2 separate regions of the Homo sapiens genome follow, and region 2 is linked to region 1. Evidence: fine-mapped expression QTL. A gene starts in region 1. The other region holds a variant in brackets. All regions are shown on one strand. Distances are from middle to middle. Region 1 holds the start of LINC02846 (long intergenic non-protein coding RNA 2846). Region 2 has its middle 25 kb from the start of TMEM250.

Evidence for each region. PIP is the estimated chance that this variant, and not a neighbour inherited with it, causes the effect. A credible set is the group of variants that fine-mapping cannot tell apart.
Region 2: its variant is the best candidate, but not a certain one, in a credible set for the expression of LINC02846 in whole blood (TOPMed, PIP 0.54).

The regions. Positions count from the first base shown.
Region 1 is chr9:136,106,815-136,112,171 of GRCh38, reverse strand. LINC02846 (long intergenic non-protein coding RNA 2846) reads left to right here and starts at 2,736. Exons shown (of 2, transcript NR_189286.1): 1 at 2,736-2,807; 2 at 3,353-4,323. RefSeq lists enhancers at 1,432-1,551, 1,026-1,637, 1,952-2,061, 1,638-2,249, 2,572-2,621 and 2 more and silencers at 2,352-2,541, 4,950-5,049.
Region 2 is chr9:136,140,848-136,146,204 of GRCh38, reverse strand. No RefSeq gene overlaps it. Among named protein-coding and RNA genes, the nearest start is that of TMEM250, 25 kb to the right of the region's middle. RefSeq lists a silencer at 688-1,000. The variant C/T (reference allele first, on the strand shown) is at 2,920.

The DNA.
Region 1 (5,357 bases):
AGCTTCCCCATGGCCACAGTGTGTTCCTTGCGGGAGCCCCGCTAACCCGGCTCCTCTGGGGGGGGCTGAAGAGCCCTGTGGGGGATCTGAGGGGCGGTGGAGCTGCTTACGACCGCTCCCCAGCAGACCTGCCATCCTCGGGCTGTATTAACCAGGCGTTTCCCCTGTTTGACAGGTTCTGTTTTCAAAGTTGTTCTCCCCTTGAGGTCCCAGATGACCGGCTGAGCTGTGCAAGGGCCACGGCTCCAAGGAAGGCCGGAGCTACTTGGAGGTTGTCCCCAGGCCCTTTGTCCACAGTGACAGACACCCAGACCAGACCATGCTGCAGTGACTGGTAAGGGTGCCACCCAGAGAGGGATCTCCAGGGACCGCCGATGGTGCTGTATGTCTGGGGCTGTCTGTCTTGGGCCTCCTGGGCCCTCCCAGCAGCAGCTGTGTTTCTGCTGGGTGGGGAGACGTGCCAGGACCACTGCTGGGGGACCAGCGCTTTCCACGGACACGTCACATTTAGAACAGCCTGATTTGCTGGTGGTGGGCTCCACATGTCTGAAAACACAGGAGTGACCTGCAGGCCTGGAGGCTTCCAGAAGCTTCCAGCAGTGGTGAGGAGTCGAGGACTGGGAAGGTGTTGAGACAGAACCTAAGCATGTGGCCGCTGCGGCTTCCTGCAGAGATCTCAGGCAGCGCGCAGCCGCTTCGGAGGGAGTTGGGAGCCGGTTAGGAGACAGGATCCATCCTTACGAGGCGGCTGGTCCATACAGCGGTTCCCCTCCCACTGCAAGTGGCCTCGGTTGCCTGCGAAGGAGGGAAGTGGCCCCGGGGACTCAGGGTGGCGGCCGGACCTGAGTGAGCTGGGAAGGACAGGTGTGGGCAGGGAGGGCCGCTGGCTGCTCCTGGGGACGGTGGGAAGTGGAGGTAGCTGCAGACTGGCCTGGAGGTCAGGAACGTGCCGGGAAGGTTCTGGAATCAGAGCTGCCCGGCGCTGGCTGGATGAGAGGCCCCCAGTGACAGCAGTGGGTTTGGGAGTCATGGGTTTGGCAGTGAGGAGCCTGGCACCAGAGGTCAGTGTTCGGCCTGGGGGATGGGGGAGGGTGGGCGGCCCTGGACCAATCCCTGAGCCTGGACCACAGAGAAGGTGTCCAGCCCAAGGCAGGCGCGAAGCTGAGGGGGAGCTGGGCGGGCCGGGGAGGGAGGAATCAGAGGGGCTCTGGGGAGGGCGGCCCCTGGGTGGAGACGGGTGGGAGGGAGGCCTGGAGGTGGGGAGCGGCTCCATCTCAGGCTGAACAGAGTGCTGAGTCAGGAAGTCACAGCCGGGCGCGGGGTGTGGAGGAAGCCACCAAAGCCAGCCCGGGGCTGTTGACTTAGTGGGGTCTGATTTTCAGTCTGTGCCTGGCCCAGGGGGATTGTGCCGAGTGGCTCCCAGAGCCCCCCTTTCCCCGTCGTCCACCACACGGGGACACCAGCTTGGGCACCAGACCGGGGGTCTCTGTTGCTGAAAAGTGGAATCCAAGCTGAGGAGCCAGCAGAGGGCAGGCAGTGGCTGGAAGGGGGTGGTGCTGGGGATTTCAAGATCTAAGATGCTCGGTCAAGATGGGCCACGTGCTGTCCCATCCCCAGCACAGGGTGGCCTCGGAAGGCTGCCCCGTCAGAGCCCCCATGTGCAGCCTCCACAGGCAAAACCACCCCAAACGCACACACACAGGAATGTCCTCCACCTCCCGCCCCTCCGCAGGGGGCAGGACAGGACAGCAGGGGCTGAGGGGGAAGGTGCCCGGCTCCAAACACAGCCCCCAGCAGGAAGGACGGCAGGGCCAGGCGCGGCCCCCACTCCAGACCAGAGCATGACTCCCCCGGTGCCGCTGCGTCGATGGTGATATTGATGCTCCGTGATCTTGGAAGGGCCTGTCCCCTCCAGCGTGCGATCGGAGGAGGGCGCGGGCCCTGGCAGTGCTGTGAGTGCTGATTCAGCGTTTTCTGGGGGAGACAAACGTGCTTCGATCTGCAGAGGCCAGTGCGTTTCTCTTCTTCCTTATGGGTCTCCTTTGGAAAGGGCCCCTCTCTGCCCAGGCCCTCCCTGCAGGCCTCCGCTCATGCCCTCGGAGGCGGGGGCTGCCCTGCACCCAGCCCCGGTGAGCCGCACTTCCCATGCAGCAGGCTGCAGAGGCCGCAGTCCAGAAACACCCCCCACCCCACCGCCTGGCGCGCCTCCTGACGGTTCCCAAAAGAGAGAGCGCCCCGCCGCACCAGCATCCTTGCCCAGGCGGGGCCGTCCGGGTGCAGCTGATTCAGCGGCTCCTGGCCCGGCGCCCCTCCCCCAGCCCAGCTGGGCAGCGTGCCCGGGCATGCCGGCAGCTGTGTCACACGGGCTCTGGCAGGGCTGCTGTGGCGCGCACTGCGCCTGGGGGCGGGGTTGCAGGCTGCTGCGGCGGGCGGGCTGCCAGGCGCCCCCTCCCTGCGGGGCCGCTCCCCTTCCGTGCAGTCCTTGTATGGCCTCCTGCAGAGGAGAGGCCCCGTGGGAGGCGGAAGGCAGAGCTGGGTCTTGGTGCTCCTGGGCTACCGTCAGCCCCCAGGAAATAATCACATCCCAAAGCCCCGTCAGCGGATCCACCGCCACATCCAGAGTCTCCCCATAGCCCGGGTCGGGGCCGCGTTCCTCCATCTCAGGCCAGCCCTGCTGGGGCCACCTGCCGTCCTGACCTGGGCGGAGACTGGAAGGGGCAGGTGGGGCGGGGCCCAAGAGTCCTACCCGACTAATGGGGACAGCCGGAGCCAAGGGGCTCTCAGGGCAGCAGGAGGGCCATGCAGGGGTGAGCCACAGCCCCCAGGGCCCCTCCTGCCAGCTTCGCTGCGCCCATGAGCTTGGGTTTGCCTCTAGCTGAGGGCATGGGGCAGGCCTGGGGAGCCGGTAGGCGCTGACCCAGCGGTGACCCGGGCCCAGGGGAGGAGGGCGCCGGCTCTATTTGGGAAGGGGCTTCGTAAAGGGGCTTGGTTAATTTATGGGAGAACCTCGGTGTCCCCGCCCTGTGAGGGCTGTGGGCGTGGGGTAAATGCAGGGCGGGGAGGGGAGAGGGGTCAGGGCTGAGGAGGAGAAGCAGGGGCAGGAGGCAGGGCGGGGAGGGCAGAGGGGTCAGGGCTGAGGAGGAGAAGCAGGGGCAGGAGCGGTGAGGAAGAGGGGCATTTGGTCGAGGTTGGGTCAGGTAAGGACACGGTGGTAGGCAAAGGCCAGGGGGCAGGTGGGGTGCCTGGGAGGTCCGTGGTCAGAGGATGGGTGCTGGTGGGGCCTGGAGATGGCGGTGCTGCCTCCACCCTCCTGAGCCTGGAGGCCTGACAATTGCATCCGAAAAATCCACAGCCACCATCGTGTCAGCAGCACGTTGACCATGGCTCACGACATGGGGACGGGCATTCTTGCCGCTTCCTCAGAATATTAACGACGGTCCCAGCAGAATGCTGTATGAATATTCATATGGAGCTCAATCAAGCCTGGGCTGGCGGATGGCACAGGGAGAGGCGCCGTGACAGGCTGGGCCCGGGTCCCAGTGGGCACACCTTGGCAGGGTGTGGCCGTAAGTCTCCGCCAGCTCCAGCCAGGATCTGCCTCCCTCGGGATGGGACAGGCCTGGGCCTGTTGTATGGCCACAGGCAGAAGAGGCCGATGAGTGACATGACATCACCACTTAGTGACTGCCCTCGTCCTGGGAGCCCAGATGCTGGGGCGGGGCTCCTTCCTGAAAGACCCAGAGAAGTTCATCTCAGGTTTAATGGGGGCACTGCTGCCTCAGAAGCCAGGCAGTGGGTGGTGAGGTCCCTGTCCTCACTGGGGTCTGCAGCCGAGGAGGACTGGCCACCGAGGCCCAGGCCAGGCACAGGGATGCTGGGTGGCCATGGCCAGTCCTCCCGGGAGCCCCTAGCACCTTGGGCCTGCCCCCAGCTCTCACGCCGGGAGAGGTTTTTTCCCACTCCGGTGGCCGACGCCCTGGTGAAGGGATTCGCAGAACGGGAGCACATGGATTTCCAGTTCTTCCCAGCGGGCGCACGTAGGCCGGCACCCTCTCTCTCGTCTTTGGGCAGAACTCGAGTGCTGCTAGACCCTTGGCCCCGCTCACTGCGCTGGGCCGCACTGCACCCATTTCCTCCCAGCAAGGGCGGTCCCTGGACTCCTCTGACCTGAACTGCTTCCGAGTTTGCTTCTCAGAACCAAGAGGGGCTGGCTCTGCGCCCTGCCTACCTGTCCAGGGGTGGGGGCTGCCCTTTGAAGCTATCAATCTGGGTTTTAAGTGTGGATTCATTATTGACAACACCATGACGTTATGCTGACATGAATTATTTGTATGTTTTTCAAATTGTGCTGTGATAACCCTGGCTGTCTTCCTGCTCCCATAGTGGATAAAAGCGTCCGAAAGAATGCCGCCATCTCTCTTCTCCCCACAGCCTGGAGCTGGGCCAACCGGAACTCAGCCACCACCTGTGCTCGGTGCAGCCTGGTTTGACCCCCACCCTCCTCCACCTGGCTGGGGTGCGTGCCTGGCACATGTATGTGTGCACGTATGTGCGTGTGGGGGTGTGGCATTTGTGTGCCCAAGTGTTTTCTGCTGTCGTGTCTCACGTCCTGGCTCTGCCGCCCTCCACATCCATGGCTCCTTCCCGTGCTCCCTCAGATGGTCCCCCAAAGAACGGAGGGACTCCGGCCCCTTGAGGAACAGGGAAGCCCCTGCCTGGGTAGCCACTGGCAGGTGAGTCCTGTGTTCCTGCCGAGAAAAAGTCTGCTTTCAAACGCGGATGGGCAAGCACTCCCTTTGCGGTCGCCGCGCTTGGGGTCGCCGGTTGCTGGGCTGATTGGCAGGAAGAGGTGCGGCTCCCCGGCCCCTCGTGAGGCTGTGCAGCCATCTGCCCCTCTCCAGGCCCAGCTCTTCCTGTGAGATAAGGGGGCGGGAACCCAGGGAGGCTGGGCCTACAGCGTGCAGTGAGGTGAGGTGCTGGACTAGCTGTTCTCAGGTCACCCCCAGGGAAAGCCCTAGGCCCGCATTCTGTCCCCAGGTGGGAAGTTCAGGGAGAAGGAACCAGGGCTGGGGTTGGACTCAGGGCGGGGGGCGGGGGGGCGGGGCTCACGATGTCACCTGTGGCACGGCTGCCGCAGTGGGCCAGGGAGCTCCAGATTCCCTGGGTCACCGTCTTACCAGGGCCTGGGTTGGGGCCTGGGTCGGGGCCATGGGATTGCAGAAGCAGCACTGGAGGCTGGTGCCCTGTTCCTTCCACCAAAACTGGGCAGACCCTCTCCTCAAGGGAAGGTGCCGGGGGCTGGCTGCAGGCCCTGCCTGAGGCAGATCTGATGACCTTGGGCCAGGAAGACAAGGCCA
Region 2 (5,357 bases), 34 kb before region 1:
GATGACTTTTCTTTCTTAGAACCACCTGAGTGTGGAGACAGGCATCGTCTATGAGGCGCTCCCTCAGGCCTCCTCGGGGTGGCTACTCTCAGGACTGAATGAGCTAAGCCTTTTCCCTCACTTTATACTGTTTAAGCCTCACAACCTGTCCTTATTCCATTTTACAGCTGAGAACACTGAGGCCAGGGGTAGGGAAGAACTTGCCCAGTGCTGCCCAGCTCCAAATCAGGTGGCCAGATGTCCACAGCCAAGTTCCCCAAGCCCTCCTGCCACCCACATCCTGACCCCAGGGCTCTGCTCCCCGACATAGTGATAACAGGGCTCCACCAGCCCCCAGGGTGCCGGGAAGCCAGGGCAGCTGGCAAGGTGCAGGTCTCCTGCCCTTCCCCGGCCCACTGGGGGCCCATCTGGATGGTGCTACTCCCTCAAGTAGATTCAGTCCAGCTCTGCCTGGAGGCCCCAAGGGCAGGCAGCCCGAGCAAGGGGCTTCCTAGCAGGTGAGGGAGGCCAAGGTCTCACCTATGGGCTGAGTTGGGGGGAGAGCATCTCAGGCTCCGGAACCTTCCAGGGATTGGGGACTGGGTCCAGGAGTGATGTCTGCAGAGAGGAAATGGAAGAGGATCCCAAAGCCAGGCAGCCCCCACTGCGTGGAGGACGAGGAAGGGGAGGAGGGGAGAGAGGAGTGGGTGGGTTTGCCCCTCCAGCCCCGGGAGCCTTGGGTGGGTGACGCATAAACAATTTCTGCCCGGAGCAGACGCTGTCTGGGAGCCTGGAACGGCACCCCTGCTTTCCCTGCCCCTCTCCAAGTCCCAGCCATGGGCCACTCACACATGTAGGTCACTCTTCAGTGGGTCCCATGGGACCCGTCCAGGTGCCAGCCTCCCAGCTCCTGTGATGGTGCCCCTTCCAGGTATGCCCCCCAAATGCCCTGCCCCCAACCAGAGTCAATGATTTCCTCCTTACAGAAACACAGCTGCAGAATCCCTCAATCGTGCTTAAGCTACTGGGCTTTGGAGGACGAGGACTCTTGGGCACATTGGCCTGCTGGAGGGTCTCTGCTGCCCTTGGCCTTGGCAGAGCTGCCTGGGCCTTCTGAGCAGGTGGGCCGCCAGGCCCTGAGCATTCCTGAGAACGCTGACCCCTGGGGAAATGGCGGGCAGAGAGGATCCGAGAGGCACGCGTCTGTGTCGCAACCAGGACTGGAGCCTGCATCTTTCCCACAGGTGCCTTCTGGGGCCTCAGTATTCCCATCTGTCCAGTGGGGCTGGAGTCCCCCAAACACCTTCTTACAAAATGCTTTTGTAATGCTCGATCCACACAGCATCCCCAGGACGTGGGGCGGCACTGGACTGGAGGTCCCGGGATTTTACCTCCTCCAGTCCTTGCCATTGTCCTGGCCTCCACAGTAGAGCTCAGGCCCGTTGTGTGGATGAGAAAATCAAGACCTGGGAGCAGAAGCCTCTTGCCTGACCTACTGTGTTTGTAAGTGGTGGGCTGGGCTGCAGAGCTGGACCCACAGGGCCCGGAGTGGGTGGCGGGTGACATGTGCTTGTGCTTCGGGGGAACCCAGGCAGAGCCGTTCCCAAGAGCTAAGTGTGGGGGGCCAAGGTCTTTGTCACCACCTCCCACAGCCGAAAGTCTAATGGTGAAACACTAATTTGCAAATAGCATCCAGCCCTCCGGCTGCTGGCCCAGACTTGGAGATGGAGCCGTGACCCAGCAGAGGGAAGTCTTGCGTTCCCCATTCCTTGGACGTGTCACCCTCTGCAGAGCGCACAGCCAGGGAGCCCATGTGGGTGGGTAGGACGTGGAGACTCTGCCCTGGACCCTGGCAGTGCCCTTCTCAACAGCCTCTCCACCCACCTGCCAGCCTCTCTCCAGACCTGCAGGAGATACCACCTCAGGGCCTGACCACGTGTGCACTGCAGAGCCGGCCAGGGGGCTGTTCCTGACTCCTCCAGGGGCCTAAGTGTCCCAGCAGTCAAATTCTGCCAGCCCAGAGGCATGGACCCAGTGCACCTAGGGGGAAACTGAGGCACAAGAAGATTAAATCATATGCTCTATGATCCTGCCCAAGTCAGGATGGGGTGACCAGGGTGTCCCTGGAGCTGCCTAAATGCTAGCAGGGAGAGGGGTGAGGTGGGGGGCTGGGCTGCAGAAATGGGTGGGCCTCCGGGGAGCAGGGATTCCAGCTGCTGGGGGCCAGTGCAATCCAGAGACTGGGCTGAGGGAGCAGGCGAAAAGCCCAGTGCCCCCTCCCCGGCATGCACAGGCTTCCCAGGCCAAGGTCAACCCAGACCCCCTGGAGGTAGCTGGGCTGGCCCCAGTGGGCACAGAAGTCCTGCTGTCCCTGTAACTGGTCCCAGCTGGTTTTAAAACCTTCCCAAGTGTGAGCAGTGGGGATGGGAACCCTCATCCTGGCTTCTTGGATGAATGCCATCAGGGTGAGGAGCTTGGGTTGGGCCTCTGGGGAGGGGCAATAAAGGGCTCCCTCCAGGGAGGCTGCAGGCCTGGCCTGGGGACCTCGGTGCAGGGGGTGGGGGTTCTTGCTGGTTCCTCACCCTCCCGGAAGCACAGGGGCAGATCCGGGAGGTCAAGGGAGGGCGAGGCCTCCACTCCCCACCCCGGCCCCCGGCCAGCTCTGCTCCTCCTCTCCCCCACTCCTGGGGGTCCTGTTGACTTGGAGGACTTGGATGGGGAGAACTGAGAGCCTTGAGTGTCCCTTGAGCGCCCCCTGGTTTCACAACCACAAGCCTGGAACCCTAGGAGGGCGGGAGACTTGTTCCAGGTCTCACGGGAAGAGGCAGAGCCAGGACTCCCTGTCCAGGACCTTGCCTCAGTTTCCCCTTCCACTGGATAAACTGGGGCCCCTGCCACCCCAGGACCTCTGGGAGACCTTGGGGATCGCAAAGGCAGCCG[C/T]CCTGGGCAGCCCGCAGGAGGGCACGGGAGGAGTGTCCCCCAGGCCATGGGGCACGGACTGACCTGTGGCCCAGCCCACCAGCCAGGAATGGGGACCGTCCTGGCGGCTTGGGCTGGGGGCCTCAGCACCTGCGTGCTCCGAGAGGTCCTCCACATCTGCATCCATGCCCAGGGTCGGGACCCCTCCTTGCCTCAGAGCCCGGCCAACCTCAGAGGCCGCCTGGGACACATGGAAACAGATGAATCATAAGTTTTAAATTTTTCCAGTTTTACAACCTGGAGACAGGCTTTTAAACAGCCTCACCAGCCAGAGGGTGGGGGTCTCGCTTTAGGAGGGACGCGGCCGCCCTGAGCAGGTGGGGTATGCTTGCCCCCACCCCCACCCAGGGATCCTTCCCGAGCCCCCGGGGAGCCTCTGGCCATGAGCGATGATGCGGAGAACCCAGGGGACTGTCCCTTCGGCTCGTAGAATAGGGATTCTGGCCCATGAGCATTGATCTCTCTGAGTTTTTAAAGGAAATTTTATTTGTTTGGGGTTTCTAGTCATTAAGTTAAAACCAGTAAAATAGAGCAAAATCAATACCTGTAGGACCCAGCACAACCAGTCTGCATTACGATGCTAAATAGGCTGAGTAAATGGTGAGCCAGGGTTAGGCTGGGGGAAGGGCCTGGCAAGTGTGGGAGCCTGGGGAGTGTGGGGAGGTTGGGGAGGGAGGGAGCCCCAGGAGGTGGAGAGGGAGCCCTGGGAGGGAGAGTGGGGTCCTGCGGGCTTCTCCTGAGCTCGAGGGGAGCTGCGAGGACTGCAGGGGCCAGTGCTGGTGGAGGCATCGGCTTTGGGGCAGAAATGGTGATCTCGAAGTCCAGAGGGTCTCAAGCCTCCCTGCTGCCCCTCACACCCTCTGCCCTTTGAACCCCAGAAGCATGCAGGGACCCTAAGCTCCCTGGATGTGCCAGCTCTGCAGAGGGTGCCGACTGCTCTAGGCCTTGCCTCCTTCTCAGTGATGCCTGACGTGGTAGTGGCAGGAGGAGGCCCTGCCCCGGGTAGGTGCTGCCAGCCTCCCACTGTGAGCCTGCCCTGGGCCCCGTCCCCACGAGTCTCCCAGAGGTGGCGTTGCTGTCCGGTCTGCAGGGAGGGCGGGCCCTGGGCTGTAGGCTTCTTGAGGCGGGCACTGGTCACAGCTGGGACTAGGTGAGAGCAGAATTAAGCTTTGGAGAATGGCTGGGACTGCAGTTGCTGCCTTGGAAAGCTCCAGAATGCTCTAGAAAGCTCGCTATGCTGCCAGGAGGCCAGAGCTGGGCAGGAGCTGAGGGTGAGCAGCCTCCGGGTTGGGGTGGGCAGAGACAAGGGAGCTCTGCCGGGGTGGGATGGGCTTAGCAGGGAAGGAAGCTGGCTCGCTGGCTCGGTGCTGGGCGCCATGAGTTTCCAGAAGCTTCTTGTCTTGGGGGAGCCACACGTGTGCCTCAGCCAATAGGGCCTGGCTGGAAAATCCACAGCTTCTGGTCTCTAGCGCTCAGCCCCTCACAAGATAGGGAATGACGGGGCAGGCGGCCTGCACTTAGCCTCTATATTTTATTTATTTATTTTGAATTTTTATTCATTTTTATTGCTTTTTGAGACGGAGTCCCCCTCTGTTGCCCAGGCTAGAGTGCGCAATCTCGGCTCACTGCAACCTCCGCCACCCAGGTTCAATCAATTCTCCTGCCTCAGCCTCCCGAGTAGCTGGGACTACAAGCATGCACCAACACGCCCAGTTAGTTTTTGTATTTTTAGTAAAGACAGGGTTTCGCCATGTTGGCTAGACTGGTCTCAAACTCCTGACCTCAGGTGATCAGCCCACCTCGGCCTCCCAAAGTGCTGGGATTACAGGTGTGAGCCACTGCACCCAGCTGACCTCTATATTTTAAATAATAGCTTTATTGAGATAGAACTCACATCGCATCCAATTTATCCAGTTAGAGCGTATGATTCAATGGCTTTCTGTATACTCACGGATGTGTGCAACTATCAACACAGTCAATTTTGGAACATTTTCTTCACTTCAGAAAGAAACCCCAGGAAATTCTGGCACGAGCTACGATGGGGACGTGCCTGGAGGATGTTGTGCTCAGGGAAAGCAGCCAGCCATGAAAAGGCAAGGCCTGCCTGATTCCTCCTCCGAGAGGCCCTGGAGACAGACAGCAGAGGCGTGTACGCCAGGGGCGGGGGGAGGGGGTGGGAACAGAGCTTCAGTTTGGAAAGAGGGAAAGCTGTGTCGATGGAGGAAGATGTTGTTTGCACAGCAACGTGAATGCACTTAATGCCACTGAGGCGTGCGGTTCAGAATCGTGAGGATGGAGTGATGGTTAATTTCATGTGTCAACTTGACTTGGCTGCTGGGTTCCCAGATATCTGTTCGAACATTTGGCTGGGTGCAGTGGCTCATGCCTGTAATGCCAAC